Linked DNA regions of Homo sapiens: all the other regions are linked to region 1. The links come from fine-mapping of genetic effects on gene expression. A gene starts in region 1. Each other region holds a variant in brackets. All regions are shown on one strand. Distances are between the middles of the regions. Region 1 holds the start of GNA12 (G protein subunit alpha 12). Region 2 overlaps GNA12 (G protein subunit alpha 12). Region 3 overlaps GNA12 (G protein subunit alpha 12). Region 4 overlaps AMZ1 (archaelysin family metallopeptidase 1). Region 5 overlaps GNA12 (G protein subunit alpha 12). Region 6 overlaps GNA12 (G protein subunit alpha 12). Region 7 overlaps GNA12 (G protein subunit alpha 12).

What was found. PIP is the estimated chance that this variant, and not a neighbour inherited with it, causes the effect.
Region 2: its variant is fine-mapped to the expression of GNA12 in whole blood (TOPMed, PIP above 0.99).
Region 3: its variant is fine-mapped to the expression of GNA12 in whole blood (INTERVAL, PIP above 0.99).
Region 4: its variant is fine-mapped to the expression of GNA12 in whole blood (TOPMed, PIP above 0.99). The same link has a PIP of 0.9 or more in lung.
Region 5: its variant is fine-mapped to the expression of GNA12 in whole blood (INTERVAL, PIP above 0.99).
Region 6: its variant is fine-mapped to the expression of GNA12 in whole blood (INTERVAL, PIP above 0.99).
Region 7: its variant is fine-mapped to the expression of GNA12 in whole blood (TOPMed, PIP above 0.99).

What each region holds. Positions count from the first base shown.
Region 1 is chr7:2,841,786-2,845,998 of GRCh38, forward strand. GNA12 (G protein subunit alpha 12) reads right to left here and starts at 2,523. Exons shown (of 4, transcript NM_007353.3): 1 at 2,068-2,523. The coding sequence starts at 2,376. RefSeq lists enhancers at 1,830-2,647, 2,610-2,904, 2,887-3,016 and silencers at 1,997-2,046, 2,387-2,716.
Region 2 is chr7:2,767,131-2,771,343 of GRCh38, forward strand. All of the region lies in intron 2 of GNA12 (G protein subunit alpha 12), which reads right to left. Among named protein-coding and RNA genes, the nearest start is that of GNA12, 75 kb to the right of the region's middle. The variant G/A (reference allele first, on the strand shown) is at 2,323.
Region 3 is chr7:2,751,989-2,756,201 of GRCh38, forward strand. The region is part of intron 2 of GNA12 (G protein subunit alpha 12); the gene reads right to left. It also overlaps a transcript of AMZ1 not described here. Among named protein-coding and RNA genes, the nearest start is that of AMZ1, 66 kb to the left of the region's middle. The variant TA/T (reference allele first, on the strand shown) is at 2,594.
Region 4 is chr7:2,719,064-2,723,276 of GRCh38, forward strand. It overlaps AMZ1 (archaelysin family metallopeptidase 1), which reads left to right. Exons shown (of 7, transcript NM_001384743.1): 7 at 1-620. Among named protein-coding and RNA genes, the nearest start is that of AMZ1, 33 kb to the left of the region's middle. The variant C/A (reference allele first, on the strand shown) is at 2,053.
Region 5 is chr7:2,739,297-2,743,509 of GRCh38, forward strand. All of the region lies in intron 2 of GNA12 (G protein subunit alpha 12), which reads right to left. It also overlaps a transcript of AMZ1 not described here. Among named protein-coding and RNA genes, the nearest start is that of AMZ1, 53 kb to the left of the region's middle. The variant G/C (reference allele first, on the strand shown) is at 2,319.
Region 6 is chr7:2,774,820-2,779,032 of GRCh38, forward strand. All of the region lies in intron 2 of GNA12 (G protein subunit alpha 12), which reads right to left. Among named protein-coding and RNA genes, the nearest start is that of GNA12, 67 kb to the right of the region's middle. The variant C/T (reference allele first, on the strand shown) is at 2,084.
Region 7 is chr7:2,732,884-2,737,096 of GRCh38, forward strand. GNA12 (G protein subunit alpha 12) reads right to left here. Exons shown (of 4, transcript NM_007353.3): 3 at 568-618. It also overlaps a transcript of AMZ1 not described here. Among named protein-coding and RNA genes, the nearest start is that of AMZ1, 47 kb to the left of the region's middle. RefSeq lists an enhancer at 856-1,843. The variant GAC/G (reference allele first, on the strand shown) is at 2,571.

The DNA.
Region 1 (4,213 bases):
GGGTAAGTGATACAAATGTACCCGATAGGTTTCTACGGGGCTTTGCTAAATTTAAAATCTCCCAGGCACCATAAAACCTAGTCTCCAGGCAGGTTTTCTGGCATGGCAAACTTCTCTCCGACTCTGCTTTGAGATGATTGTCCTCGCCTCTAACTTGGTTTCCCCAAAATGGGCTGGGGAAAAAGTGGTGAGGGGACAAGGAAAGGGTAGAGAGGTAGGGAGGGAGGGAGAAAGGAAGGGAGGAAGGAAGAAAAGAAAAAAGGAAGGAAGGTAGAAAGAAAGGAAGAAAAGGAAGGCGGGAAGGAAAGGAAGGAAAGGAAGGAAGGGAAGGGAGGAAGAAAAGAAAGGAAGGAAAGAAAAGAAGGAAAGGAAGGAAGGAAAAAGGGAGGGAGGACAAAGGACGCTATCTAGGTGTAAGCAAGGCTGCACTGTTCCCTCATCATCAGTTTCCTCCAGATCTTCCTTGAGGCCCTTTAACACAGGCTCACGGTACTGAGAGACTGGAACCCCGACTTTATCAACTCTATGGTTCTTTTATTTTTTTTCACTGCCACTCAGGCTGGAGTGCAGTGGCCCAAACATGGCTCACTGCAGCCTCAACCTCCCAGGCTCAACCAATTCTCCTACCTCAGCCGCTCAAGCAACTGGGACTACAGGTGCATTCCACCATGCCCAACTAATGTGTTCATTTTTGTGGCACTGAGGTCTTGCTGTGTTGCCCAGGTTGGTCTCAAACTTCTGGCCTCAAGTGATCCTCCTGCCTCAGCTTCCCAAAGTGCAGGGATTACAGGCACGAGCCATCACACCTGGCCGACTTCTACAGCTTCTTTCACAAATATGGCGAAGAGAAAAAAGGAAGCAAGAGACAGGAGAATCTGGAGATTCATTGCAATGCATGTCGAGTCACACAAAACAATTATGCCACAATGGAGGAATTCTGAACACTGGATATCTGGTGATAATGAGCTATTACTAATGTTTAGGTTTGCTAATGGTACTGCGGTTGTGTTTTTACATGGAGGCCTCATCTTTTAGCCACTCATATACATCCTAAAACGTTTCCTAATCCAACTACACAAAGTTGGATTTGCTTGGAGACCATGGGGAGGGCACAGGTGAATAGGATTGGCACAGAATTGATGACTGCTTTAGTTGGGCTGTAGGTACTTTACAGTCAATCTACTATTTTCTCTACTTTTGTATACATTTGAAGTTTTCGTATTAGAAAGTGTGGCTCACACCTGTAATCTCAGCACTTTGGGAGGCCCAGGTGGGAGGATGGCTTGAGACCAGCCTGGGCAAGAGAGTGAGAGCCTTTCTAAAAAAACAGAAAAGTAAAAAGAGACTCATGGCTGGTTCCCGTCCAGTCTCCACTGCTCTTCTTCTAAGCTCAGCCGGAGGGCACGGCCGGTTGGGCTCCTATCCCACAAATCTTCCAGTGGGAAATGGACAGATACCATTCTGCTAGGGCACATCCAGGAGGGGGCTAAGTGCCAAGCCCCCACTCCCCATCCCCAGAAGCTGGCCCGAGTTCCCACTCCCACGGTCCCCAGGCACCCTAGAGAGGGCAGAGGCAGACCGGGCGCCATGACTCATGCCTATAATCCCAGCACTTGAGGGAGACCAAGGCAGGAGGATCACTTGAGGCCAGGAGACTGAGACCAGCCTGGGCAACACAGCAAGACCCCATCTCTACAAAAAAAAACTTAAAAATTAGCTGGGCTGGTGGTGCGCGCCTGTAATCCCACTACTTCGGGAGGCTAAGGAGGGAGTAGGGCTTGAGCCTGGGAGGTCGAGGCTGCAGTGAGCTGTGAGGGCGCCACTGCACTCAAGCCTGGGAAACACAGCGAGACCCCATCTCAAAAAGGGCGAGACGGGGTGGGGCAGAGACGACGCCAGCAGGCCTCGGGGAATGGGTCGGGGGGGAGTGGGGTGCAGGCGGGGCTGGATCCAGCATCCTCGCCCCAGGGGTCCCCGCCCGCGGCGGCGGACCACGGAGGGGCCCGGGGCGGGGGTTAGCGCCCCGGCCCACCTGGGTGCAGGTGCTGGGCGGGGGGCGCGCGTCACCTTGAGGATGTTGTCGAAGATGGTGTCGCGGAACTCCAGCAGCGCCTTCTGGTCGAACTCGCGGCCGTGGATGATGCGCATCTGCTTGAGGAACGTGGACTTGCCGCTCTCGCCCGCGCCCAGCAGCAGGATCTTCACCAGGCGCCGGACCGCGCGCCGCTCGCGGGCCAGCAGCGCGTCGATGTCGCGGCTACGCCTCCGGGCCTCGCGCTCCGCGTCGCGCGCGCCGCTGCCCGCCCTGCGCTCGCGGGCCCCGCCGGCCTCGGCCGGCAGCAGGCAGCGGCTGAGGGTCCGCACCACCCCGGACATGGCCCCTCAGGCCGCGGCCGCGCCCCGCCGGCGCCCGGGGGCCATGGACGCTCCCGCCGGCGAGGGCGAGCCCGGGCCGAGGCACCGCCCCACGCCCCGCCGCTCGCCTCAGGCCGCGTCCGCCGCCGCCGCTGCAGTCGCTCCGAGGCCCGCACTCGTCGCCCGGCCGCCACTCGGGCCCGGCGGAGGGGCGGGCGGCGCCGCGTGAGGCCCGGCGGATTGGGCCGGCTGCCGTCCATCTGGCCGTGAGAGCCCTTCGATTGGCTCATCTCGCCAAGGGAGGCGGGCATCCCTTCCGGCCTCGGGGCGGGGTCGACGCCGAAAGAGGCGGGATCTTTGAGGTGAAGGCGCTTCTCATTGGACGCCCAGGCTGAGGTTCTTTCTTTCAGAATGAAAGGGAGGCGGGGTCGCCCGGGAGGCGGAGCGATCGTCCGCCATGGCCAATTATAATTGCTCTGAGTGGACATCAGACGTGCCCAACGGGCTTTGGATTGGGTGTTCGGGGGACGGGGCGTGACGAGAAGTGCCAGGTGTACAGAAAGATTCTCCCTTGGTTCCCAGATTGGGTCCGCCTGTGAGACCAGGACCTCGCGGAGTAGCCCAAAGGCTGGGAAATGCTGATAAGAGGTTCAGCTGCTCGTCGTATTCCCTCCGATGATCTTGTTTCTACACTATTTTCCTTCCAGAAACACTGGAGGGGGATGGGCCATAAATTTCAAACACATGCACCCTTTGAGAGTGGCATGGGCTTCTAGGAGGCTTTGCGAAAAGCTGACTAATCACTAAAATCACCAGAAGCTCCCCCAAAAGTCTTATGTCTCACAGTGATTGAGAGAGTGGGGTCTGGAGTTGCTGGGCCTGAGTTGGAATCTCCAGTCGACCAGTTACTAGGTGTACTAGTTGCATAACTTTTTTTAGCAGCTTTCCCCACCCCCCCCAACAAACCCTTTTGGATGTTCTTAGCTTCCGTTTCCTCATCTGTAAAACGGGGGTGTCATTGACGACATTGGTTATGGCTTGACATTGCTCAAATCGTCATGAAGATATAAACTGAGAACATGAACTTACCAAACACTTAGCACGTGAGCTAGCCCAAAATCAGCTCTTGATAGAGATCAGCTGATTACAGATTCTTGACTCTCCCAGATCTACTGAATCAGAACCTCCTAGAAGGAGCTCAGGTATCCCTTAAGATTAAAGGCGTGAGCCGCCGCGCCTGGCCCAGTGTGTAGTCTTTTATCTCTCGCCACCCCCCACCTTTTACCCTGAGTCCCCAAAGTCCAATCTCTGTGCGGTGTCTGTTAACTCTGCTGATTATTTCTTTTGCAGTGCCGAAGCTTTTTAGTTTAATTAAGTCCCATCTATTTATCTTTGTTTTTGTTGCATTTGCTTTTGGGTTCTTGGTCACAAAGTCTTTGCCTAAGCCAACGTCTAGAAGGATGTTTCCGATGTTATCTTCTAGAATGTTTATGGTTTCAGGTTGTAGATTTAAGTCTTTGATCTATCCTGAGTTGATTTTTGTATAACGTGAGAGACGAGGATCCAGTTTTATTCTTCTACATGTGGCTTGCCAATTATCTCAGCACCATTTGCTGAATAGGCTGTCCTTTCCCCACTTTGTTTTCATTTGCTTTGTTGAAGATCAGTTGGCTGTAAGTATTTGGCTTCATTTCTGGGTTCTCTATTATGTTCCATTGGTCTCTGTGCCTATTTTTATATTAGTACCATGCTGTTTTTGTGACGATAGCCTTATAGTATAGTTTGAAGTCAGGTAAAGTGATGCCTCCAGATTTGTTCTTTTTGCTTAGTCACAGATCTAAACTCCCCAGAAGGCTGG
Region 2 (4,213 bases), 75 kb before region 1:
GAATGTTAACTCTTTTCACATATATGATTTGCAAATATTTTTCCCGTTTTATAGGCTGCCTTCTCACTCTGTTGATTGTGTCCCTGTACCCACAAAAATGTTTACATTTGATGTGCTCCCATTGGTCTATGTTTTCTTTTGTTGCCTAGGCTTTTGGTATCATACCCAAGAAATCACTGCTAAATCCAGTATCTTGAAGCTTTCCCTCTATGTTTTCTTCTAGGAGTTTTAGTTTTCGTGATTATGTTTAAGTCTTTAAGCCATTTTGAGTTATTTTTTGTATACAGTATAAGAGTTGTGGTACTTAAAAAAAAATAGCTATGCTGCATTCCACTGAATAAATGTACAATCACTTATGTGACCCTTTCGATAGCCACCTGGGGGCATTTCCAGTGTTTTGCTGCCATCAACAACTGTGACATGAATACCCTTTATAGTACCCTCTCTCACACACAAGAACAACTGTTTCCCTGTCTTCTTATTTAAAATCAACTCTTGGCTGGCGCGTTTCAAGTTTTTTACTTCTTCATTTGTATTGTAACTCCTAACCTTTAAACCCTTAGCACCAGATATATTTTGGAATTCAGAAACTTTCAGATTTTGGAAAGATAACATGGTACATATGCTATGCATTACCAAATCCTCATCGTAAATAAAATCTGAGAATATTTCTACAATAACATAGATTTGTGTGTGTGAACAGTTGTACTAATGGAGACTATATTTTATTTTATTTTAGTTTTTGAGACGGAGTCACTCTGTCACCCGGGCTGGAGTGCAGTGGTACAATCTCGGCTCACTGCAACCTCCGCCTCCTGGGTTCAAGCAATTCTCCTGTCTCAGCCTCTTGTGTAGCTGGGACTACGGGCACATGCCACCATGCCTGGCTAATTTTTTTATTTTTAGTAGAGACAGGGTTTCACCATATTGGTCAGGCTGGTCTCGAACTCCTGACCTCAGGTTATCCACCTGCCTTGGCCTCCCAAAGTGTTGGGATTACAGGCATGAGCTACCGCTTACAGACCTAATGGAGACTATAAATGGCCACGGGTATGTGAGGCCAGGCTTTGCTACTAAACAAGTCCAAATTGAGTTAGATTAGGTTTTGCTGCCAAATAAGTGATCGGAAATGGTTTCTGTTTTCCAAGTTTAAATACAGCAAATGTAGTGACTAAGGAATTGCTAATTCAAACCTGGATCTCTCAGCTTCAAAGTCATGTCACTTCATCCAGTGAAGATCAGTAGCCTTCCTTTTTGAGGTCCTGGCTTAGCAAGCTACGTTTTTCCTAGTATTTCTCTGCTTCAGAGAACTCAGAAAAACACTAACTGCATTCGAGGACTGCGTGAAATGAAATCACATCCTAGAGTCCTGAGACATGCCCTTAAAATCATGGATGTAACACTCAGGAAAACAAAGGTTAGAGTAAAACCTAATGCTAATAAGTTTTCTTTCAAAATGGTTATAATGCAGTTACGTACATTTAGAAAATTAATTCAGTTATAAAATTAGGTAACAGGTGAATATGCTCTCAAGGTAAAAAAAAAACAAAACAAAACAAAAAAAAAAACAGTAAACCTATGGATAAAGGAGAGTTCATTCCCACTCATTCCCACAACTATTAATCACTGTTATCAACTTGGCATACACTTTTCTACCTTTGTTTCTGTATTTAATATGTGTATATTGTATGTGGAGAAATCTACACTTTAATGATTTGTTTGGTTTATATAAATGGGATAAACTACTACACATTGATTGTTTTCCAAGTTGGTTTTTACCCTTACCATGCCTTAGATATATTTCCTTTTCTTTGAGATGGAGTCTCGCTCCGTTGTCCGGGCTGATCTCGGCTCCCTCCACCTCCTGGGTTCAAGCAGTTCTCCTGCCTCAGCCTCCTGAGTAGCTGGGATTACAGGTGTGCACCACCACACCCAGCTAATTTTTGTATTTTTAGTAGAGACAAGGTTTCACCATGGTAGCCAGGCTGGTCTCGAACTCCTAACCTCAAGTGATCCAACCGTCTTGGCCTCCCAAAGTGCTGGGATTACAGGCGTGAGCCACCATGCCCAGCCACCTTAGAGCTGTTTCTGTGTGGACCTTCATTCCTTCTAATAGCCATCTGGTATTCTACTTAAACAGCATCACTGGCAGGTATTTACGTAGTTTTAATTTCTGCTACTACCATCAACATTGCAGAAACCATCCTCATGCACACCACTTCTGGGACATGTATAATTATGTCTGTAAGCTAGGTATCTGTAAATAGAACAGCTAGGTCAAAGAGTATCCATATTAATTTTTTAAAACAGCTCTGGCCGGCT[G/A]GGCACGGTGGCTCATGTCTGTAATCCCAGCACTTTGGGAGGCCGAGGTCGGCGGATCACGAGGTCAGGAGATTGAGACCATCCTGGCCAACACGGTGAAACCCCGTCTCTATTAAAAAAAATACAAAAAATTAGCCGGGCGTGGTGGCAGGCGCCTATAGTCCCAGCTACTCAGGAGGCTGAGGCAGGACAATGGCACGAACCCGGGAGGTGGAGCTTGCAGTGAGCCGAGATCGCACCACCGCACTCCAGCCTGGGTGAGAGAGTGAGACTCTGTCTCAGAAAAAACAAAAACAAACAAACAAAAAAAACACAGCTCTGGCCAAATTCTCTCCCAAAAAGGTTGTACCAATTTATATCCTAATGAACAAGGGTTTAAGATACCCACTTCTTTATACCCTTAACACACTGGATATTATCAATTGAATTTTTTTCTGAATTTGATGGGTGAAAAGTGATATGTCATTACATTTTAAGTCTAAGTGTTTTTGTTTTTTTAAATCATGGGGGGGCAAGTACTTTTTCAAAATTGCTTTTATAAAATTAAAGGTTTATAATAGGAAGTTACAATAAAATAGATCATAGTGACATGCAGAGCTAAGATTCAATTCAAGCTATAGACTGGCCTGGTACTGTGAGGAAAATAAAATATATCCTCAACATTATTCAACTGCATAGATAGCAACAAATAAACAAACCTACAATGTATGACTTTACTGAGGTTCACTGCCATAATATACTATAAACAGGATAACCATATGCCCCACTTGCCCTGGAGAGTCCCAATTTGAGTCAATCATCTTGGCAAAATTGTTTAATAGGGTCTTGTTTTATTTATAAACATGTCCCGTTTGGAAATTAAATTAAATGATCACACAATTTTAAATTTAGGCTCAAATTGAGGCTCAATAGCCTCTAGAACCATATCAAGCTCAAAGAGTTCAATTCTGACATAGTTCAGCTAGGCTTGTGACAGGGCAATGCTTGTCCATTGGAGTTGGCATTAGATTAAGTTAGAGTTAGCTAGGCGTGGTGGTGCACACCTGTAGTCTCAGCTACCCAGGAGGCTGAAGTGGGGGAAATCTCTTGAGCCCAGGAGTTTGAGGATGCAGTGAGCTACGATAAGCGTGCCTGTGAAAAGCCACTGAGCTCCAGCCTGGGCCACATAGTGAGACTCCATCTCAACAACAATAACAACAACAAAACAAAACAAAACAACACACAGAAAGAAAGAAAGAAAAAGAACAAACAAAAACAAAGCAACATGGATGCTTCACTGGGCAGCAGAGCTAATGGGATCCTGTGCTTGTTGCTTTGTGTTTCCACGTAGGACGATTACAAATCAGAGTTACTGAAACCGAATGCCCCTTCACTGTATACCATAGGAATACTGGCACTGCCTAAGTGCAAGGCCATCGTGCAAGATTATGGCAATGTTTTAAGATCATCTAAACGTGGACCTGGGGGTACTGCAAGCGCCAGGCTCTGATGACTCCTTGCAGAGCAAATGGACAGGGAACAGACTTAGTAAACCAAATTATTAAAATCAAAGAAAAGGCCAGGCGCCGTGGCTCACACCTGTAATCCCAGCACTTTGGGAGGCTGAGGTGGGTGGATCACTTGAAGTTAGGAGTTCAAGACCAGCCTGACCAACATGGCGAAACCTCGTCTCTACTAAAAATACAAAAATTAGCCAGGTGAGGTGGCAGGCACCTATAATCCCAGCTACTCGGGAGGCCGGGGCAGGAGAATCGCTTGAACCTGGGAGGTGGAGGTTGCCGTGAGCTGACATGTCGCCACTGTACTTCAGCCTGGGCGACAGAGCAAGACTCCCTGCCACTCAAAAAAAACCAAAAAACCAAAAAAACGAAACCGCACATAGTGAACTTGC
Region 3 (4,213 bases), 90 kb before region 1:
CAACTCCTTTTATGAGGCCAGCATCATCCTGGTACCCACACCGACAAGATTATCAAAAAAGAAAAATTACAGACCAACTCTCCCCTTGAAAAGACACAATATCTTTAACAAAACTTTAGCAATTTAAACCTAACTACATAAAAAATGTCAATAGAAGACAGCCACTATTTTAGCAAAATAAGGAAGAAAAAAATACGAATGTTTCAATAGATGCAGAAAAAAAGCATGTGAAAAAATTCAACACATGCTCAGGGCTTAAAAAAAAAGTCCTCTCTCACCAGACTAATAGAAAGAAACTTCCTCAGTTTGATAAAGGGCATCTATGAAAACCATGCAACTAACATCCTAAGTCATGGTGGACCACTGAGTACTTTCACCCTAACACTGGGTGTAAGGCAAGGATGCCCACTTTTACTGCTTCTGGTCAATGCTAAGTTAGAAAGACTAACAGCAAAAAGCAAGACAGCAAGCAAGCGAACAAATGAAACAAAAGACACAGGGACTGGAAAGCAAGAAATAAAACAATCTGCAGATCGCCTAACTGTTCAAACACAAAATCCTAAGGAAGCTATAAAAAAGCTAGCAACAGAATCAATCCGTGAGTTCAGCACATTCACAAGATAAGAGATTACTACACAAAAATCAAGTATATGTTTTACATACTGCCAATAACCCAATGGAATCTAAACATTGTAAAAGCAATTCCGTTTTTAATAGTACTAAGAAACGTGAATTTTTTTTTGCCGTAACTTTTCATCTTGAAATAATTATAGATGCATAGGAAGTTGCAAAGATTGCCTAGAGAGGTATAGGTGGACCTGCCATGCATTTTCCCCAGTGGTTACATCTGTTGTTCTTATAGTACAATATCAGAACCAGGGAACTGACGTTAGTACAATGTGTGTGTGGTTCCATGCACTTTGTCACCTGTCTAGATTTGTGTAACCACCACTGCAATCAAGAGACACAACTGTCCCACCACAACGGTCTCCCTCGTGCTACCAATTTATAATCACAGCCATCCTCCTTCTTCCACCATCCCTAATCCCTTGGTAACCACGAATCTGATTTCCATCTCTAGAATGTATAGTCACTGATCTGTTTTCTGTTCCTATAGTTTTGCCTTTTCTAGAGTGTACTTAAAGTGAAACCATACAGCATGCGGCTTTTTTTTTTTAAAAAAAGAGACAGGGTCTTACTGTGTTGCCCAGGATGGAATGCAGCGGCATGATCATGGCTCACTGCAAACTCTCCTCCCAGGCTCAAATGATCCTCCTGCCTCAGCCTCCCAAGTAGCTGGGACTATAGGTGCATGCCACCACGATTGGCTAATTTTATTTTTTGTAGAGATGGGATCTTGCTATGTTGTCCAGGCTGGTCTTAAACTACTGGGCTCAAGCCATCCTCCCAAAGTGCTGGGATTACAGGTGTGAGCCCCTGCACCTGGCAGCATGTGGCCTTTGGAAGTTGGCTTTTTTCACTCAACATAATGTCCTTGGGATCTGCTCACACTGTTGCATCTGTCAGTAGCTTGCCCCTTTTTACTGCTGGGAGAATTCCATGGTCTGAACGTGCCGCAGTTTATTTAACCATTTACCAATCTAGAGACATTTTGGTTGTTTCTGTATTTTAGCTATTACACATAAAACTCTGTGAACATTCATGTACAGGTGTGGTGTGGATGTAAGTTTCATTTCTCTAGGGTAAATGCCCAGGAGTGTGACTGCCGGGCTGTATAAGTGTATGTTTAATTTTTTTTTCCTTTTAATTACATTTATTTTAATGCTGAATTTACTCCTGTGCCATAAGTTTTTGTTTCTTCAGTTTCTTCTGGGATATCTTTTTCTTCTGGGCAACCTCCTCTTCTGGTTTAGGAACAATCTGTTCCTTTTCAGTAAGGATCATCTCAATGTGGCAGGGAGAGCTCATGTATGGGTTAATCCGACCACGAGCTCTGTAGGTCCGGCGGCGCATCTTAGGTGCTTTGTTCACTTGGATATGCTCAGTGACCAGAGAATCTACATCTAAACCCTTAAGTTCAGCGTTACTCTCTGCCAAACTCTTTTCCAGAACGGTTGTACCCTTTTACCTCCCCACCAGTGATGAATGAGACCCAGCTTCTCAGTATCCTCACCAGCATTTGTTATTTTCACTATTTTCTATTGTATCTGTGTTAATAGGTGTGTAGTGCTAGCTCACAGCAGTCTGAGTCTGCATCTCCCTTAATTGGCAGTGACTCAATGGCTGGAGAGGCTGGATGTCTTCTCGTGCTTATGTGCCATCGGCATGTCCTCTTTGGTGAAATCACTTCATATGTTTTGTTATTTTCTGTTTGGATTGTTTTCGTACTGGTGAGTATTGTTTTGAGAGTTCTGTTTTCTAGATAATGAGTCCTTTGTCGGATATGTAGTCAGCAAATACTTTTCTCCCAGTCTGTAGCTTGTCTTTTCATCCTCTTACTAAGAGGATCTGGGCAGGGCACGGTGGCTCACCCCTGTAATCCCAGCACTTTGGGAGGCCAGGGCAGGAAGATCCCTTGAGCTTAGGGGCTCGAAACCAACCTGGGCAACATAGTGAGACCTCATCTCTACTT[TA/T]AAAAAAAAAAAAAAATTAGCCAGGTATAGTGTTGCGTTCCTGTAGTCCCAGCTATTAGGGGAGGCTGGGACAAGAGGACTGCTTGAGCCCAGGAGACTGAGGCTGCAGTGAGCTATGATCACACCACTACACTCCAGTCCGAGCAACAGAGTGAGACCCTGCCTCAAAAGGAGGACTTTTGCAGAGCAAACATTTCAAATTTTGATGAAACAAAAATGACCGTTTCTCAAAATTTGATTTCAACGGATCACTAGGGCGTCATGTCTAAGAATTCTTCACCAAGTTCTAGGCCCCAAGGAGTTTCTACTGTTATCTTCTCTCAAGTTTTAGAGTTCTGCGCTTTACACTGAAATCTGTAACTCAGTTTGAATTAATTTTGTATAAGAGATTTAGGTCAAGGTTCACTTTTTCTTCCCTACAGAGACAGTCCAGCACCCTTTGTTGAAAAGGCTCTCCTTCTTCACTGAGTTGCTTCTGCCCTTGGCTGCAATCAGTCGGGCGTGCTGGCGGGGAGCGATCCACGGGTCTGTCCAGTGACCTCGTGTCTCTCCCTGCGCCAGCACCACACAGGCCTGACCACTGCAGGGAGACAACAGGCCTTGGAATCAGGGAGAGTGGCCCCTCCCACTTTATTCTTTTTCAAACATTTTTGGCCATTCCAGTGCCTTTCCGCATACATTTTACAATAATCACATCCATGTCTACAAAAGATCTTGCTGCGATTTTCACAGGAATTGTGTCAAATCTGTGTATCAATCAGGGGAGAACAGACATCTTGACAGCACTGAGTTTTCCATGAACACGGCACATCCCTCCATTTGTTTAGATCTCATTTCTTGAGTGTTTCGTGCTTCTTATCAAACAAGTCCTCTAGATGTTGTGTTAAATTTACACCACAGTATTTCATTTTTAAAATGACTGTTAATGGTGTTGCATCTTAAATTTGTTTCCATGTGTCTATTGGTCATTGTTAGTCTATAGAAGTAAAATTTATATTTTGTATATGGATCTTGTATCCTGTAGCCTTGCTAAACTGACTCATTAGTCTATGACTTTTCTGGTAGATTCCTTGGGATTTTCTGTGCCATCTGCCAACAGGAACAGTCATATTTCTTTTTCTCTGATATGTCTACCCTGCATTTCCTTTTCTTGCCTTACTGCATTGGCTAAAACAGGAAATTTTTTTTAAATGTGAAAAATTTCTTTACTGAAAACTGAAGAACACTTGGGCAAAAAATTTGAAACCTAAATAATTGGAGAGTTATGTCATATTCATGAAATGGAAGATTCAACATTGTTGTTTATGCTCCCCAAATTGATCTAGATTGAATACCAGTCTCAATACAAATCCCAGCAGGCATTTTTTTTGGTAGAAATTGACAAGCTCATTTTAAAATTTATCTCTTCAAAACACCACAGAATAACAAACCATTTTATAAAGAAGAACAACGTTTTCATAATACCAACTTTCAACTTGCTAGAAAGTGACAGAGTTTATCATCGGCAAAAGAAAAGTAATATGGATCAACCGAATAGAAATGAGAGTGCAGAAACAGGCCCCCACATATATGGCCAATTGATTTATAAAAAATTGACAAGGCAACTCAAATGAGGAAAG
Region 4 (4,213 bases), 120 kb before region 1:
TACCTGTGCCCTTCTGGGTGGGTGGTGGCCGTCCTCTTGGGCGCCCCCTTGTGAGGGCTCGAGGCCTTTACTGGATGGGCAGGATGCGGGCAGCAGCTTTGTCGGCTGCCAACCCAACTCCTCCGACAGAACGGCAGGTGGCCCCTGTCGGAAGGGGGGTGTCTCTTTATTCCTGCCATCCTCCGGCCGCCTCTCCCGCCTGCACCACTTGGAGGCAGTTGTTTCACGTGGGGCTCTTGATGGCATAACCTGATGTCTGTCACGGACCCCCAAGCAGGAGCAATGCCTAAAGAGGGCAAAGGCCCGCGCGCCTGGCAGAGCTCCCTCCTCTGCTCCAACAGCAGAGCCCAGAGCATCCCTTGGCCCGACGCACAAGTCCCACAATAGCCTCTCCCAACGGGAACGACTTAGCCCTAATTACATGAGCTTTGATCACCGCTCGATTGTATGGCACAGTTATTTTTAAAAATCCAGTCCAAGTGGAAATACACCTGGAACATTTTATACTGCAATGACTGATGGACGACTTTGATATACAAAATAAATTGTTACTCAGCTTTTCTATAATGCTTACATCTTACATTTTCATTCTCAAAATTAATAAATGCTATCAACCCCAATTTTTTTTTTTTTTGAGATGGAGTTTCGCTCTTGTTGCCCAGCCTGGAGTGCAATGGTGTGATCTTGGCTCACTGCAACCTCTGCCTTCCAGTTTCAAGCGATTCTCCTGCCTCAGCCTCCCACGTAGATGGGATTACAGGTGCCTGCCACACCATGCCCGGCTAATTTTTGTATTTTTAGTAGAAATGGGGTTTCATCACCTTGGCCAGGCTGGTCTCAAACTCCTGACCTCGTGATCCACCCGCCTTGGCCTCCCAAAGTGCCAGGATTACAGGCGTCAGCCACCGTGCCCAGCCTCAACTCCAAATTTTAAAAAGGGCTTAAACGAAGAGGATGAAATTCTGGAAGGCTAAATGAAAAGAGAATGTGTCTGTTGAATTCGATAAGCAATTCCTTGCATTTGAGAAGGCAAGGAGCCGACGGGAACCTACCGACAGGGCTGCCACGCACTGCTGCAGAGCTTTCCGTGCAAAGCGCGGCTCCCCTCTGAGACTCGGCTCCTCTGCTGACATGGACCGGTTCATCTACCCACGCGGACGCCCATCCACAAACACTTAGTCACTGCTGGAGGCTTTTAAAACACCTGTCAAATGAAGAGTCACTTCACAAATGTTCACTCCCCGTTTCCATGTCTCCCCACGTCAGGGTGAACACTTTTTATGCGCTGTGACAAAAAGAGAAAGACTAGTGTGTGTTTTGGGGGCTGGAGGGGATCATTATTTTTTTGAATTTTTATTTATTGAGACAGAGTCTGTGTTGCCCAGGCTGGAGTCCAGTGGTGCGATCTTGGCTCACTGCAACCTCCGCCTTCTGGGTTCAAACGATTCTCCTGTCTCAGCCTCCCAAGTAGCTGGGACTACAGGCGCCTGCCACCAAGCCTGGCTAATTTTTGTATTTTTTAGTAGAGACGGGGTTTTACCGTGCTGGCCAGGCTGGTCTTGAACTCCTGACCTCAAGTGAAACACCGAAGTCTCCCAAAATGCTGGGATTATAGGTGTGAGCCACTGCGCCCAGCCTTTAAAAAAAAAAAATTATTTTAGATACAGGGGTCTTGCTATGTTGCCCAGGCTTATCTCAAATGCCTGGGCTCAAGCGACTCTCCTGCCTCAGCCTCCTAAGTAGCTGGACTACAGGTGTGTATCTCTACACTGAGCTAACTAAAAACTTGTTTTTGGTAGAGACAGGGTTTCAGCCACGTTGCCCAGGCTGGTTTTGAACTCCTGGGCTCAGGCAATCCTACTGCCTCGGGCTCACGAAGTGCCTGGATTACAGGTGTGAGTCACCACGCCCAGCCCGTTATTTCTGTTTATACGAATGTCACAGCATGTTTCCTGTGTGACCCTGCGGGCTGTCATCGCTGGCTGCCTGCCTTACGCCCACAGGTCTGGTGGTGGCGACCAGCAGCTGCAAAACGACCGACTCTATTGAAGA[C/A]ACACTGGGTGGCGCGGGAGGTTCCTGCCAATGCCGGGAGGAAGAGCAACCCAGGACGCCTGTGCCTGGGAGGGATGGAAAGGCCAGGGGAGGGTGGAGCTCAGGAGTGGAAGCACAGGGACTAAGGCCTGAGCCGGGCCCTGTGCTGAGCGCTCACCTCACTCTCCTGCCGCGCACCGCAGATGTGTGGAAGATGTGAGGAGGCCTCTGCTTCGGGAAAGGTGCTTGCCCCACGGTGGAACGCACTCTGGAAGCCCGTGGATGCGACGCATGCTGCAGAATCCACTGCCACACACATTCTTCTGTTTGAAAGCAGTAGGTGGGCTGGGCGCAGTGGGTCACTGTAATCCCAGCACTTTGGGAGGCTGAGGTGGGTGGATCACGAGGTCAGGAGATCGAGACCATCCTCGCTAACACGGTGAAGCCCTGTCTCTACTAAAAATACAAAAAATTAGCCAGGTGTGGTGTCAGATGCCTGTAGTCCCAGCTATTTGGGAGGCTGAGGCAGGAGAATGGTGTGAACCTGGGAGGTGGAGGTTGCAGTGAGCCGAGATCGCGACACTGCACTCCAACCTGGGCAACAGAGCGAGACTACGTCTCAAAAAAAAAAAAAAAGATAGCGGCGGGTGGGTGCCACACTCAGGGGCCCCCCACTTCTCAGCAGTGGCGGGGGAGGCAGGGACATAACACGCCAGGAAAACAGGTGTAATTTAAGGCACATTTTAATAGATTTATAAAAATCATATATACAAAACATGTTAAACTAACCACCGTGGCTATAACATATATTTTTACACTTTATCATATCTTAACCTCGTACACTGTATTCGTAAACCAAGTCCGGTCACGGCATGATGGCCCGGCGCAGGTGGTGCTGGCGCTGTAGCGACCGTCTTGGAGGGGCTGCACAGAGCACTCGGTTCCTTTCTGTATTTAAGGTCCTGAAAGGCACAGGCGCTAAAGCCAGAAGGCCGTCCAACTGGTCCCTTCGGCAGTGTGTCCTCCTGCTGCGTGGGCTGGGGCCTGAGCACAGGAAAGGGAGTTCAGGACACGGTGGCCATGAGTAGGTGCCAAGCTTACCACACTGAATTTCCTGGCGACGCTTGTGCCCATCGATGTGAGCTGGTTCAAATGGAGTTAAGAAAAAGGGCATTTCGAATTTTTTTTTTTTTTTTGAGACAGACTCTCGCTCTCTCGCCTGGGCTGGAGTGCAGTGGCGCGATCTCGGCTCACTGCAAGCTCTGCCTCCCGGGTTCATGCCATTCTCCTGCCTCAGCCTCCCAAGTAGCCGGGACTACAGGCGCCCGCCACCATGCCCGGCTAATTTTTTATATTTCAGCAGAGACGGGGTTTCACCGTGTTAGCCAGGATGGTGTCGATCTCCTGACCTCGTGATCCATCCGCCTCAGCCTCCCCAAGTGCTGGGATTACAGGCGTGAGCCACCGTGCCCAGCCAGGACATTTTGAATGTTTTAAACCAATTTGCCTGACAGGTCAAAAGGTAATTTTTTGAGATTCGAGACTGACAGATGCAACAGAGATTTTAAATTTTGCATAGGCTTGTTAAGAACCCAGACTGGGTGCAGCGACTCATGCCTGTAATCCCAGCACTTCAGGAAGGCTGAGGTGGGAGGATCACTTGAGGCCAAGAGTTCAACACCAGCCTGGGCAACACAGTGAGACTCCATCTCTATACAAAATTTAAAAATTAGCCAGGTGCGGGTGGTGGCCACATGCCTGTGGTCCCAGCTACTTGGAAGGCCAAGGTGGGAGGACTGCTTGAGCCCAGGAGTTTTGAGGCTGCGATGAGCTATGATCACACCACTGCACTCCAGCCTGGGCCACAGAGCAAGACCCTATATTTAAAATAAAATAAAGTAAAATAAAATAAAACAAAATAAAAATCAAGAAGGTTCACTGTGTAAAAAAAAAGTAAATCTGAAATGCATTTGCATGGCAGTTGTACAACCTGTGAGTGGTGTAGAAATTATATGTGACTTGAGTACATTTTATAAAAGAAGAAAAAAAAATTGAACAGGTTGACTCCTAATAAGAAAGCACCACAGAGTGTACAGCCCACGGTGCCTGTGGGCTGTGTGGGGGCCCTGCTGCAGACGCGTGCTCAGCACCTGTCACCCACAGCTAAGTCACAAGAGCTGCT
Region 5 (4,213 bases), 100 kb before region 1:
CCCAGACCCTGACAACACGAATCTGCTTTCTGTCTCCATGGATTTGCCGGTTCTGGATCTCTCATTGGAGCGCATTCACACAGCATGCAGCCCTTTGTGTCTGGTTCTTTTACTTGGTGCGGCATTTCCGAGGCTCGCCCATGCTGTGGCACAGGCCAGTGCAACATTCCATTTTACGGCCAATATATATATATGTATATTACATGCCATTGTATGGATATGTGGTTTGTTTTTCCATTTGTCAGTTGATGAACACTTTGTTTCCAGTTTTTGGCCGTTGTGAACAGTGCTACAAACAGCTGTGTGGAAGTTTTTGCTTGAATATCTGTTTTCATTTCTTGAGTATACACCTAGGAGTGAAACTGTAGCATCCTATGGTAGTTCTTTTTTTATTTTAAAATGGAGTCTCGCCCCGTTGCTCAGGCTGAGTGTAGTGGTGCGATCTTGGCTCACCGCAACCTCTGCCTCCTGGTTCAAGCAGTTCTCTTGCCTCAGCCTCCCAAGTAGCTGGATTACAGGCGTGCGCCACCAAACCTGGCTAATTTTTGTATTTTTAGTAGAGACGGGGGTTTCACCGTGTTGGCCAGGCTGGTCTCGAACTCCTGACCTCCAGTGATCCGCCCGCCTTGGCCTCTGAAAGTGCTGGGATTACAGGTGTGAGTCACTGTGCCCGGCAGTCCTTTGGTAATTCTGTGCTTAATTTTCTGAAGACCACCAAGCTGTTCTCCACGGCGGCTGCACAAGTTTACATTCCCATGGGCCATGTACAAAGTTTCCAATTTATCCACATCCTTGCCAACACTTGCTGTTTTCTGATTTTTAAAAACGGTGGCCATCCTACTAGCTGTGAAATGGCACTCCAGTGTGATCTTTTCTGGGTTTTCTGGCATTTCCTGGTGATCTTTTCTAGGTGGTTCTATTTGTATCATCATTATAGACTGCATGTTTGTATGCTCCCAGAATTCCCATGTGGAAGCCCTACCTGCAGTGTGATGGTATTTGGAGATGGGGACTTTGGGAGGTGACTGAAGGTAGGGACCTCATGATACGATAGTGCCTTCATAAGAAGAGACCGGAGAGCTCTCCCTCTCACTCCGTCCTATGTGAGGCACCAGGACACAGTGAGAAGCTGGCCGTCTGCAAGCGAGGAAGACAGCCCTCCCTCACCAGAACCTGATGGTGCTGCCACCCAGATCCTCAATTTCCAATCTCCAGAGCTGTGAGAAAATTAATTTCTGTTGTTTAACCCACCCAGTCAGAGTATTTTGTTATGGCAGCTTGAGCCGACAAATATAATTATGAACTTGTGGATTTTCATCTGTCAGAGGCAAAGATGGTGAAATGTAAACAACATGTTAATACTGGGCAATGGGTTTATGAGTATCTGTTGGGCTCATTCTTAAACAGTTTCATAAGATGTTTAATAGTTCAAATTATAGATTCAGCCCTTAAAACTACAGATTTAGGGCTCGCCGCGGTGACTCATGCCTATAATCCCAGCACTTTGGGAGGCCGAGGCGGACGGATCACGAGGTCGAGAGATCTAGACCATCCTGACTAGCATGGTGAAACCCTGCCTCTACTAAAAATACAAAAAAATTAGTCGGGCGTGGTGGCAGGTGCCTGTAGTCCCAGCTACTCAGGAAGCTAAGGCAGAAGAATGGTGTGAACCCGGGAGGCAGAGCTTGCAGTGAGCTGAGATCGGGCCACTGCACTCCTGCCTGGGCGACAGAGCGAGACTCCGTCTCAAAACAAACAAACAAACAAACAAACAAATAATCAAACAAAAAACCACTATAGATTTAGATTCTTCATTTGTATCACAGGGATCATCATAGAAAAATGAGCTAGAAAGAAATTTTACAGTATGTTTTAAGGTATTCCCCTGCCTCTAGATAAAAAGCACCTAGACTAGGTGTGGCGGCACGCACACCTGTGGTCTCAGCTACCTGGGAGGCTGAGGTGGGAGGATCACTTGAGCCCAGGAGGTTGAGGATGCAGTGAGCCATGATTGCGCCACTGCACTCAGGCCTGGGCAACAGAGTGAGACACTGTCTCTTAAAAAAAACCCAAAAACCTAAATAACAGGGCTAGGGGTGGGGAGAGCTCACCCAGTTTCCAGAGGCTTCCACCACAGAATCTCTAAAACCCAGCAAGTGCGGCACCAGGCATGTCACAGTTGGACTGCCTGTTAGCTTTCTACTTTTTGGGGAAATTCACAGCAGAATTCCAGCCTTTGTAGTAGCCAGAACCCAAATTCCAAGTCTCTTTGGGGCTAGGACAGAGGTATGTGTGAAAAGTTGCAAGAATAGTACAAA[G/C]AGCTCATACAGTCTTTCTCTAGATTCACCTGTTCACATCTTCTCTCATTTGCTTTATCCTTCGCTCGCTCTCTTTCAATACACAGACTTTTAAAAATCCGTCATCATTTGAGAGCAAGTTGTTTACCCCTAACAACTTCAGAGGGTATGTCCTAAGAATGAGGACACCTGCTTCTACAACCACGGCAACTTCAGGTGCTGCTTCAGGAGAACGCCGCAAGGATAAGAGTATTCATCTAGGATGACTGTCTCATAATTACCACGTATTAGACACCGAGGTTTATCTAATATATACAGATACAGCATTATAAGACCATTTCCCTCCTCTAGCACAGAATTTAGTATATTACTTACATGTAGTTATCATGCCTCTTTAGTTTCATTTAATCTGAAACACTTGAATTTTTTTATTTTTTTATTTTTTTGAGATGGAGTCTCACCCTGTTGCCCAGGCTAGAGTGCAGTGGGGCGATCTCAGCTCACTGCAGCCTCCGCCTCCCAGGTTCAAGAGATTCTCCTGCCTCAGCCACCCGAGTAGCTGGGATTACAGAGGTGCACCACCATACCTGGCTAATTTTTGTATTTTTACTACAGACAGGGTTTTGCCCCATTTTGGCCAGGCTGGTCTTGAACTTAAGTGATCTGCCCGCCTCAGCCTCCCAAAGTGCTGGGATTACAGGTGTGAGCCACCACGCCCAGCCTACACTGAGATTTTTGAAGAAGAGGGCTGCCTCCCACGGCCCTTGGGGTTTTTGCGATGTCTCCAGTGTTTAACATGACAGTTTCGAGATGATTTTCCAGTCAGTGCCACTCCATGCTTGCTGGTCTGTGAGTGACATTCCACTGTCAACAAGAGCCCTGCTCCTGTTTATCTCATCGCTGTCCACATGGACTCACAGACGCTGTCATTTTCCAGGGGCTGTAATTCATCTCTGTCCTCGCTTACTTTGGTGCTCAAAGTGAAGAAAGCACTGAGTCTCGCCGGCCCTTTGCGTTTCCATATTAGTTCTAAAGTCAGCTGTCAATGTCTACCCTCCCTGTCCCCGCAAACACCTGCAGAGTTTTGATTTTGAATGAGGCCTTTAATTCCTCTTGGTAATGCTTATAAATTTTCTGTACACAGGTGATGCACATCTTCCCTTAGATTTATTCTCAGGTATGTAATCTTTTATGGTGCTTCTTAAATGGCATCTTTAAACATTTCCCATTTTATAATCCTTTGTTGCTAGTGAATAGAAATACAACTGATTTCTGTATATTGGCTTGTGCCTAGTCACCCTGCTAAGCTCTGTATTCATTCTAATAATAGACCTGTAGGTTCTTCTCAATTTTCCAGGTGCACACTCACATCACCTGTGAGCCACAGGCATGGTGGTGTGTGGCAACAACAACATTCAGACAGAAAGCCTACCATCTTTTTGGCCAGGAGAACAAGAGGACAGAGCTGGGGCAACCAGGACTGCCAAGGGGTAAGGTGGGAACACTCCAAAAAGAAAAGAGTCAGTGAGGGAGACCTCAAGTTCTGTGCATAAACTTTGCCTAAGAGCCTGGCTGGCCCCTGAACCGTATATATGGGGGCAAACTGAAAGGGGTCTCTGCTGTGATCTAAGCAACCACCAGCACAGGCATGACCAAGTTGGCAGTTTGGGTCTCACCAAGTTAAATGTCTGCTAAAGCAAAAATATCAACATTAGATGGATGAACAGAACAGGATTTAAGTCTTAAAACGACATCCATAATACCCAAGATATAATTAAATTATTCAAAATATGGAAGATATTCATCATCAGGGGCAAAAACAATCAGAAGTTATCAACTCAAATATCCCAGATACTGGGATGGCTTGACACAGACTTTAAAGCAGCTATTATAATTAGGCTCAATTAGGTTAAAAA
Region 6 (4,213 bases), 67 kb before region 1:
CACATATTTACGCAGCTATCTGTGTTACTGAGCCACCTTCTTACCTGGGGTTGGGTTGACTCATGCACAGTGGTTGGCACAGCAGGCAGTCAAGATATGAGAGTCAATATTAATAATATTCTCAAAAGAGTATGAATTGCACAATTTAATTTACCGACATCCCTTCCCAATTTGGTGGCACCAGACGTGGCTTAAAGAGTTAAACAATTTGGACTTTTCACTATGTGATGAGTTACTTCCCCTCTACTGAGGATGACTAACATCTTTCAAGTTTTTGGATAGACAATACATGCACAGAGTACCAAATTCGTAACAGGGGAGGAGGACGCTAGAGAAACCAGTGTCTCAGCTCCCTAGCTCTCCTTTCTGTAGGCAGCCGCTGCGCCAGCTTCCAGGGTGTTGAGGTTTGATTTGAATAGGCTTAAGATATCCTTTCTCTGGTGCTAGTATGCTGCTTTTAATTTTGCAGCCTCATTTAGGGTTAGATACGGTCATATTAAGTTGATGGGAAGGAGACAGAGCCAGCCTGAATGTCCTGGGTGATGAGGATTGAAGTCATGGGGTCTAAAAAGGTTCTGGAAGACGAAGAGTGGGAACGACAAACCGAGAGGAGGAAAATCATCTGCAAATAAAGCCTCCATTGCTGATCCCTTCTATCTCAGCCACAGCAGCTCAGGAGGAACGTCGTGCCCAGTGTCTCGAAAAGGCCTGGAGCCGAAGCACTCTGCCAGCTCTTTTCATAAACGCAGAAGCAAAACAGAGCTGCCTGGTCTATGGGCATCTGCGAAACTTGGATACTAAACGCCTGTGTCCTACCCAACAGCCTGTTCTAACGTGACGGGCTTTCTTAGGAGAAGATATCTGCCATCAAACTCTGCCTATGAATTAAAGCAGAGGGCCAGGCTCCGAATCACGTCACAAGTGGAAGAGACCTCAGAGGCTCATCAGTGGCTCTCAATACAGGCCAGGCTCAGAATCACCTAAGGAGCCTCCCACAGAGCTGGCAGAGTCCTCCCCTCCCTTCATCCCTCACACTACCTGGACAGGTTACCCAGGGGCACAGGGCCCAGACCCGTACTGTGGAAAAGGTCCGTACAGCTAGGCTTAATGCAGCCATTCTGCCTGCCAGCTGGAGAGACAGAAACTGCCGGTGGCTATGGGGCAGCTCCCCTGGTGGGAAGGCCCTGGACACAGCTGGCAAGTATAGCCCTGGGGGCTAACAATGGGTCTTTTGATTTTTTTTTATGAGACTGGGTTTCACCCTGTCATCCAGGTTAGACCGCTCATTGCAGCCTCAACCTCCTGGGCTTCAGCAATCCTTGCTCAGGCTGGTCTCTAACTCCTAGGCTCAAGTGATCTTCCCATCTCAGCCTCCCAAAGTGCTGGGATTACAGGTGTGAGCCACCGCGCCCAGCCAACAAATGGGTCTTAACCAGAGTGAACACTGACTCTGGACTGGGCTTTGCTTGCCTGGTGGAAGAGGCCAGTGCTCAGAGTGCTATAGAAAGAACAGAACAGAAGACACTGCTCGGATCTGGACACCGACCGTCATTTCCTCAGACCAGGGGACACACTGTACATCCCACGGTGTCCAACAACGGGCAGAGACGCATCCTCCTCGGAGTGAGTCTGACAGAGCAGCGGAACGGGGAGTTAAAACCCTGGCTAAGACAGGGGCGATGAAAGCATGAAGGGCTGGCCCACATTCAACGGCTAAAGGACGTCCCCATTCGATGTTCCTGTTTTGTGGATCAGGGAAAGAGGGGCTGGGAAGGAGGCTGGTGTGACCACACAATTCTTGCCGAGAGAGGAGCAGGCTGGCATAAGGATTACACATTTTTCTTCCTTCCTTGCATCACCTCAGCTTGGCCACCCTGCTCCCACTTGGTGCAGTGATCCTAGGACCAGGTCTTGCAACCCCAGTGCTGGAAGCAGAGCTGGTTCCTAAGCAAGAAACTGTACTGTTTTTAAACCTTACGTCGGGGCCAGGAGAGGTGGCTCATGCCTGTAATCCAGGGACTTTGGGAGGCTGAGGTGGGAGGATCACTTGAACCTGAAAGTTCAAGCCTGCAGTGAGCTGTGA[C/T]TGTGCAGCTGTGCTTCAGCCTGGGTGACAGAGACTCTGTCTCAATAATAAAATAAGAATAAACCTTACACTGGAATTCCAAGGACCTGATGGGGGTGGGTTGTGCCTTTACCCCATCTGGGAGAACTGGGGTTCACGGTGACTGCAGCTGTACTTCCTGGTGGTAAATACAGCCCCCTAGTCCTGCACCTGTGTAGCCCTACCCTATCTGAATGGGAGTGGACTGAGGGGAGACACTGGCTAGGTTATTGCTGCCTGCAATCCAGACCAGCACAGTGACTGAACCTAATGCTCCTTTCAAACGTGGACGCTTGGGTATAAATGAAGAAAAGGAGGACTAGTAGCAGAGGGTAACGGAATGAATAAATGGGCCATATGATAGAAATCCAATGGTATATTAATACCTCGAAAGCAGCTTCAAAACAAGAGATGATATTGTCTCTTAGTTCAATTATACCAGATGCCTGAAAGGGCGAAGCTATATGTTTGGAAATGGAAAGGAAGACCAAATGTATACTTCACAATATCACAACACTGTTATGAATGGAATGGCTGTGCCTCCCCAAATTCCTATCCCTAATTCCCAGTGGGATGGTATCTGGAGGTGGGGTCTTTGGGAGGTGATTAGGGTTAGAAGAGGTCATAGGTGGGAGCATGACCTGATTAGTGCCCTTATAAGAAGACGGAGAGACATCAGAGCTTCTCTCTCTCTCCACCATGTGAGGAAGCAGCAGGAAGGTGGCTGTCTGCAAGTCAGGAAGAGAGCCCTCACCAGGAACCCCACCGGCCAGCACCTTGATCTTGGGTTCACAGCCTCTGAACTGTGAAAAATATATGTCTGTTTTCAAGCCACACAGTGTGTGGAACTGTTATGGCAGCTCCAGCTAAGACAGAAAACATGATGAAAATACTACTCCTGGGGAATCTGCCCACTCAGATGTGAAAGGCTCATAAATAAACTCAGATTTGTTTCTAAACCTTGAACTCATAAGCAAGGAAATTTTAAAAAGATCAACTAAAACTTGTGAGGTGTCCCTGGTGATCCCAGCAAAGATGTCTTCCAACTTCAGAAGAGGAGGGCCTTTCAATCTCCTATTTACCAAACAGCAAATCACAACTGCACTCACATCACAGGAATGTCTCCGAGGAAATGCTCAAACACGAGCTACACTATGCCGCCTTAGCGGCATAGTCTTTTCCAAAGACTCGCTGGGATACATGTGTCCAGTTGTTAATACTGGTCTGCTAGAAGGTTTAGTGAGAAGAGACTTAAAAAAAAGCATATTTCGCCACAATTTTTTCAAAAAGAGAAAAGAAAAAAGTCATAACAACTTAATAAATCAAGCATTTCATTTGGCTTAAACGCAAAATTCTCACAAAACCTCTCCTAAGAACAGCCAGAATAGGGCAGGCCTTGCTTTTTCACAAGAGCAGGCTGGCTTCTGAGTCTCCGATCACCACTTATGGATTGCATCAGCCCATCTGTGCCACCTCCCTCCTATCTCTTTTGAGAATTTCATCTTTCATTCAAAACCACCCAAGTTAAAGTCTGATTTCTTCCATGACACTCACACCAACAGCTCCCTACTTACATAGAGCTGGAGGCTAAATTGTGATCATCTCTCCACAAGTTGGGTAATACAGGCCCCTACTTCAGGAGTTCAGACCCCTGGCTCTCAGGGAGATGAATGGAAGAAAATCGTTCCTCCTATAGCTCATAGCCCACTGCTGAGCACAAAAGAAATTCAAAATCAGAGAGCCAGGTAGGTAAACAAATACTACTTGCTAAGCATGGTGCTAGATGTTTTCACATCTCTCAGAGTCAGTCTAAAAGGAGGGTATTAATACCGCCTTCCTTGATAGCTAAGGACTGAAGCTTCAATAATATGTAGCGAAAATGGTGAGAGTCCAGGGCTCTTCTCATTCCCTGGGCTTTACTCAGTTCTTGTGGAAGCTGATTAAATTTGTTGAAATCTGGTAAAAGTGGATGGGGAATGGGGTTGATACTACCACCCTTTGAAACTTTCAGATTAAGGGTACGTTATATTTAACCAGAATTATTTCAACTGTAAGCCTTCTTTCAGGAATAATACATAAACTTTATGGGAGGCCGAGGCAAGAAGACTGCTT
Region 7 (4,213 bases), 110 kb before region 1:
GATTCAAACTCTGCTAAAACAAAGCAAAATCAACATGAAAACATTAATGAGACAACAGGGAAAATCTCTAAACTGACTAGGTTGACATTACGGAATTACTGCCAATTTTTCAGGAGCCATACGGTACTGCGGTTGTCATTTTTCGTCTTGTCTTTTTGAGGTACACTCTAAAATATTCTCTGCATTTGCTCCCGGAGGCCGGGGGAGGGCTGCTGAAACAAGACTGGTAATCAGTGATAACTGCCATGCCTGGGGTTTCATTAGACTATTTGTTTTTGAGTATGTTTGAATTTTCCATGAGATAAAGGAAGTCCTCCTTTCACTCATGAACTCCTCTGTCTGTCTCCTTTATGGTGATCTGGGCAAAGGCAGTTTCCTCCCCTCCCCACTGAGACGGGGCCCAGATCCAAGTGAGAGCGTGCCATTACAGTACTATTCGTGGTAATGTGACAGAACAAGCTCGGCCTGTCAGTCCAGCCAAAGTCCTCACAACGTGGACTGCTTTGGTCTCTGGACACGTTTTCTAACCCTGGAGCCCAGCTTCTTCGGGCGGGCGTGCTTACTCACCAGCTGGCCGATCCGGTCCAAGTTGTCCAGGAAGTACTTCACCGACTCCCCCTGTCAGGAAGGAAGAATATTCACAGCTCAGTCTGGACTGAGGAATCCTGATGTGGCAAATACAAGAACTGAACAGGGTAAGAGCAGTGGCATTTCGCCTCCGTGTGAATGGGAAAGCAAAGGAAAAAGGCAGAGAGTGTCCGTGTGTTTTCTAAAATAAAAAAACTACCATTAAAGAAAATGTTTAATGCAGGTTCTTTAGCTCCAACCCCAAGGTTCAAATTCTGGCTGTTTTTCAATTTTCGCTGCTGGGTTTTGGTGTGTGGTGCGATGCAGGCCCCTCTGATGGGGGACTCTCTTTCCAGACATGAAGGCTGGCCCACTCCTGGCCATGCGGCCAGCAAAGGACAGGCTAGAATAGGATTTTAGATTTTGGCTCCTGGGTACAGTCTTGCTTCTGTCGAAGATGGCCTAAGGGACCCAAGACATTGTCCTTAAAGACAAAACATCCTGACGAAAAGGAGCATCTAGCAAAACATCTTCCAGTTTCTAGAAAGAGTCCATTATTCCTTCCCACATTTTTATGACCTGATTTATAGTAGCAAACACAGGGGAATCTTCCATTTGGATTGTTGTGGTGGAATGATGGCCAGTCTTCTCCTGCCTGGACCAATCATCGATACAATCTGAGACGTGTTCCATAGTGCGAAGGGCCCTGCGGAATCACCCAGGACCCCGTTTCAGGAAGCGCTGAGCCGCCAAATGCGAGGCACACACGGGGCACGGGAGGAGCCGGGAGAGCGCAACCACCGACCACAGAGCAGCCCGCATATGAACAGGCACGCAATGAGTCCCTTCAAAGGTAGCGTATTAAAAACCAATTATACCACTTTCTATAAGATTCCACTTTGAACCCTGCTCTAAAGACAGACACCAGCAGGCGGGGTCAAGGCTTCCAGGCTGCCCTGACATCAGGGCTTGTGGGAAGAGCAGTCACTTTCTGTGTTCTCATGGAAATGTACAGGGGCAAGGTCATACACATGTGGCGAGCTGACGCAGGAGAATTTTAAGGAGAGAAGGCCATCAGAATGGACTACGTGATGGCGCTGAAGCTCGTGGCGTTGTAAGGGATGGAGAAAGGCGGCCAGCACCTGCTCAGTCTATCTCTTCCTCCTCTGTCCCAGACAGACTGAGGGGAGAAAGCAGAGAGGAAGCTCCTTCAGGGAGGAGCCCACCTTCCTACTTTAGAACGAAGGCCTCTGGATGTTTTCAAAGTGAGTGTTTTGTTTGAGGGGACAGAAACACACGTCTCCCCATCCCAGCACTGCCTGTGTTGAGCGAGCACACATCCTCCTCCTCTGTGGCAGGACGGGGCGAGCACGTGCACCTCGTGACCACCGGCTCTCTAGAGCCCCAGGCAGAGGCCCAGCTCTGCAGTAGGGAAGGCATCGGGAGTGCCAGGGTGAACGTACCCCAAGGGCCCGGCACGACTGACCTCTCGTGCCTGCTCTCTCCCTTCCTCGCCAAGCCCCCGTGATGTGGGAAGCCAGCGTGAGGCCGGTGGGGCAGCCGCCTTCCCGTGGCTGTGCCAAGTCCCCCCGGTCCTCTGCACATCATGCCTCCTTCCACACCCTGACAGGAAGCAGCTGGGAGAAGCCGTTGGGTGCACTCACTCCCTGATTTACGACAAGTTCCTTCCTCAGCGCCTCTCTCTCCTGCCTCCTCCTGCTCTCCTGCCCTCCCCTGGGCCTCGGGAGGTGCCACGCAAGCCCAAGAAGCATCAGCATACTGTCCCTCCCTCTCCTGTGGCCACGGGCTCCCCCAGGGAGCTGAGAGTAGCAGCAGCTCACAGCCCAAGCCACCCTTGCCCGTTTCTAGGCAGGTGGTGGCACCAGGCACGAAGGAAGCAGAGGCAGTTCTCCTGCAGGGTTCTAGCTGGGTCAGGCATGGAGAGTCACAGTGGCACAGATGCCCCAGCCAGTGCTCTTATCACCACAGGACACAAAGCCCTG[GAC/G]ACACGTGCTCCGCCCAGATAGTACGGACGCAAGGGGAAAAGCACCACAGAGGGCACAATCAGGACAAGCTCGATGGGAAGCAGAAAACAGGAGGGACGTTTCCCTCGGTGTGAGTCTAAACACCCCTCGAGTCTGCAATCAGTCCCCCAGCTGCACTTCACAACACAGCAAACACTCACTGCTGCTTTCTCCACGATGACTGAATGAGGATGGCTCATTTAACTCATCACAGCATTTGTATCACTACTTGGAATGCAGGAAAACTTATCTGTGACTCTCGGTCATCTTGCATGAGTGGCGGAGGAGAGGAGTCAAATCTAGTTTCATGTCAGGGCGGCCTCATCTCGAGAAACAGCCCAGGGGGTCCGTGGGAAAGCTGCCACTGAACTGTAAGGTGCCAGGGACTGTGCCACAAGCTCTCTAATGGGGGCTGGAGGGGAGGGAAGAAGGGGACACAGAGCAACCCTGTGTGATCCAGAACGCTGTCACTCACATCCGCACTCTTGCTGTCCCTGAGGTTTGGTGCACTGCGGTTCACCAACAGAGACTGGACAATGCACCTGCTGATTGGGCACGCAGCCCACGGGACGATCGTTTGCGACGGACTCCTCAAGTCTTACAGCAGCAGCTCATTAAAAGGGCCAGGTTTACAATCCCATGCATTTTCAACACTAAGAGAATTCAGTCATTTCTTTAGAGAAAATGCATGTGGCAGAAACTGAGATGTCCACATGAAATTAACCGCTTGGTGGGTTTATAAAGAGGCACTGTGCCTGCCAAGACGAGCCCAGAGTCCTCTCAACGGCTGCTGCGGTCACACGATCTAGAAACACGAGTGGATCCAAAGTGGGCTCTCGGGACTCTCCTTGGTGTGAAAAACCTACACCACTCAAGATTAACACAAACTTGGACTTGCGGATTAAATGAAATGAATTTCATTAGGCTGGGGCCAGCGGCCACTGAGCACACACCTGACAGGGGCCTGTCCCCTGCCTCAACTGTCCCACGAATGTGTCTGTCCTCTCACGAGCAACAGAAGGGATGAACCTGAGCAGGGGCTGGTGGCAGTGAAAGAGGGGTTGTCTGTTTCAAGCAGCAGCAGCAGGTTGATATGGGGCCTGTGCACCTGTATTGGGCACAGCCGGGCAGATGTGATGTCGTGACACTGGGCAGGACCTAGGCCGACACACGCCCATGAGGAGACCGCCTTTCTGCAGAGGCCTGCAGCCTTCAGCAGTTTCTGGAAGCACCTGTCACCCACACCTCCGGTGGGAGAAAGACACACGCTCGGCTTGCTGCCGCTCAGAACTCCGTCAGCACCGTCAGGCAGGCACTGCAGCAGCCTCGCCCGTCACCTCTGTCTCTGCACACAGCAAGCTGCCCCTTCACAGACCCCTGCTGGCCTCACGCACTTCCTTCAGCTAATTTAGGACCACGAGAAAAGAGCTTCAGATCATTCAACCCTGCACAGGACCAGACCCTCGAGATCAGTACATGAGGGGCTGACTCTGGTTCCCTCTTGTCCTCTGCTCCTAATTGGAGCCTTTCTACCCACATGCTTGGTTCAGTTCCTGCCTGTCAATGTCACAGACTGACAGGGTGTGCATTAAAGACAGCCCATGTGTGGGTCCCACTGGGGA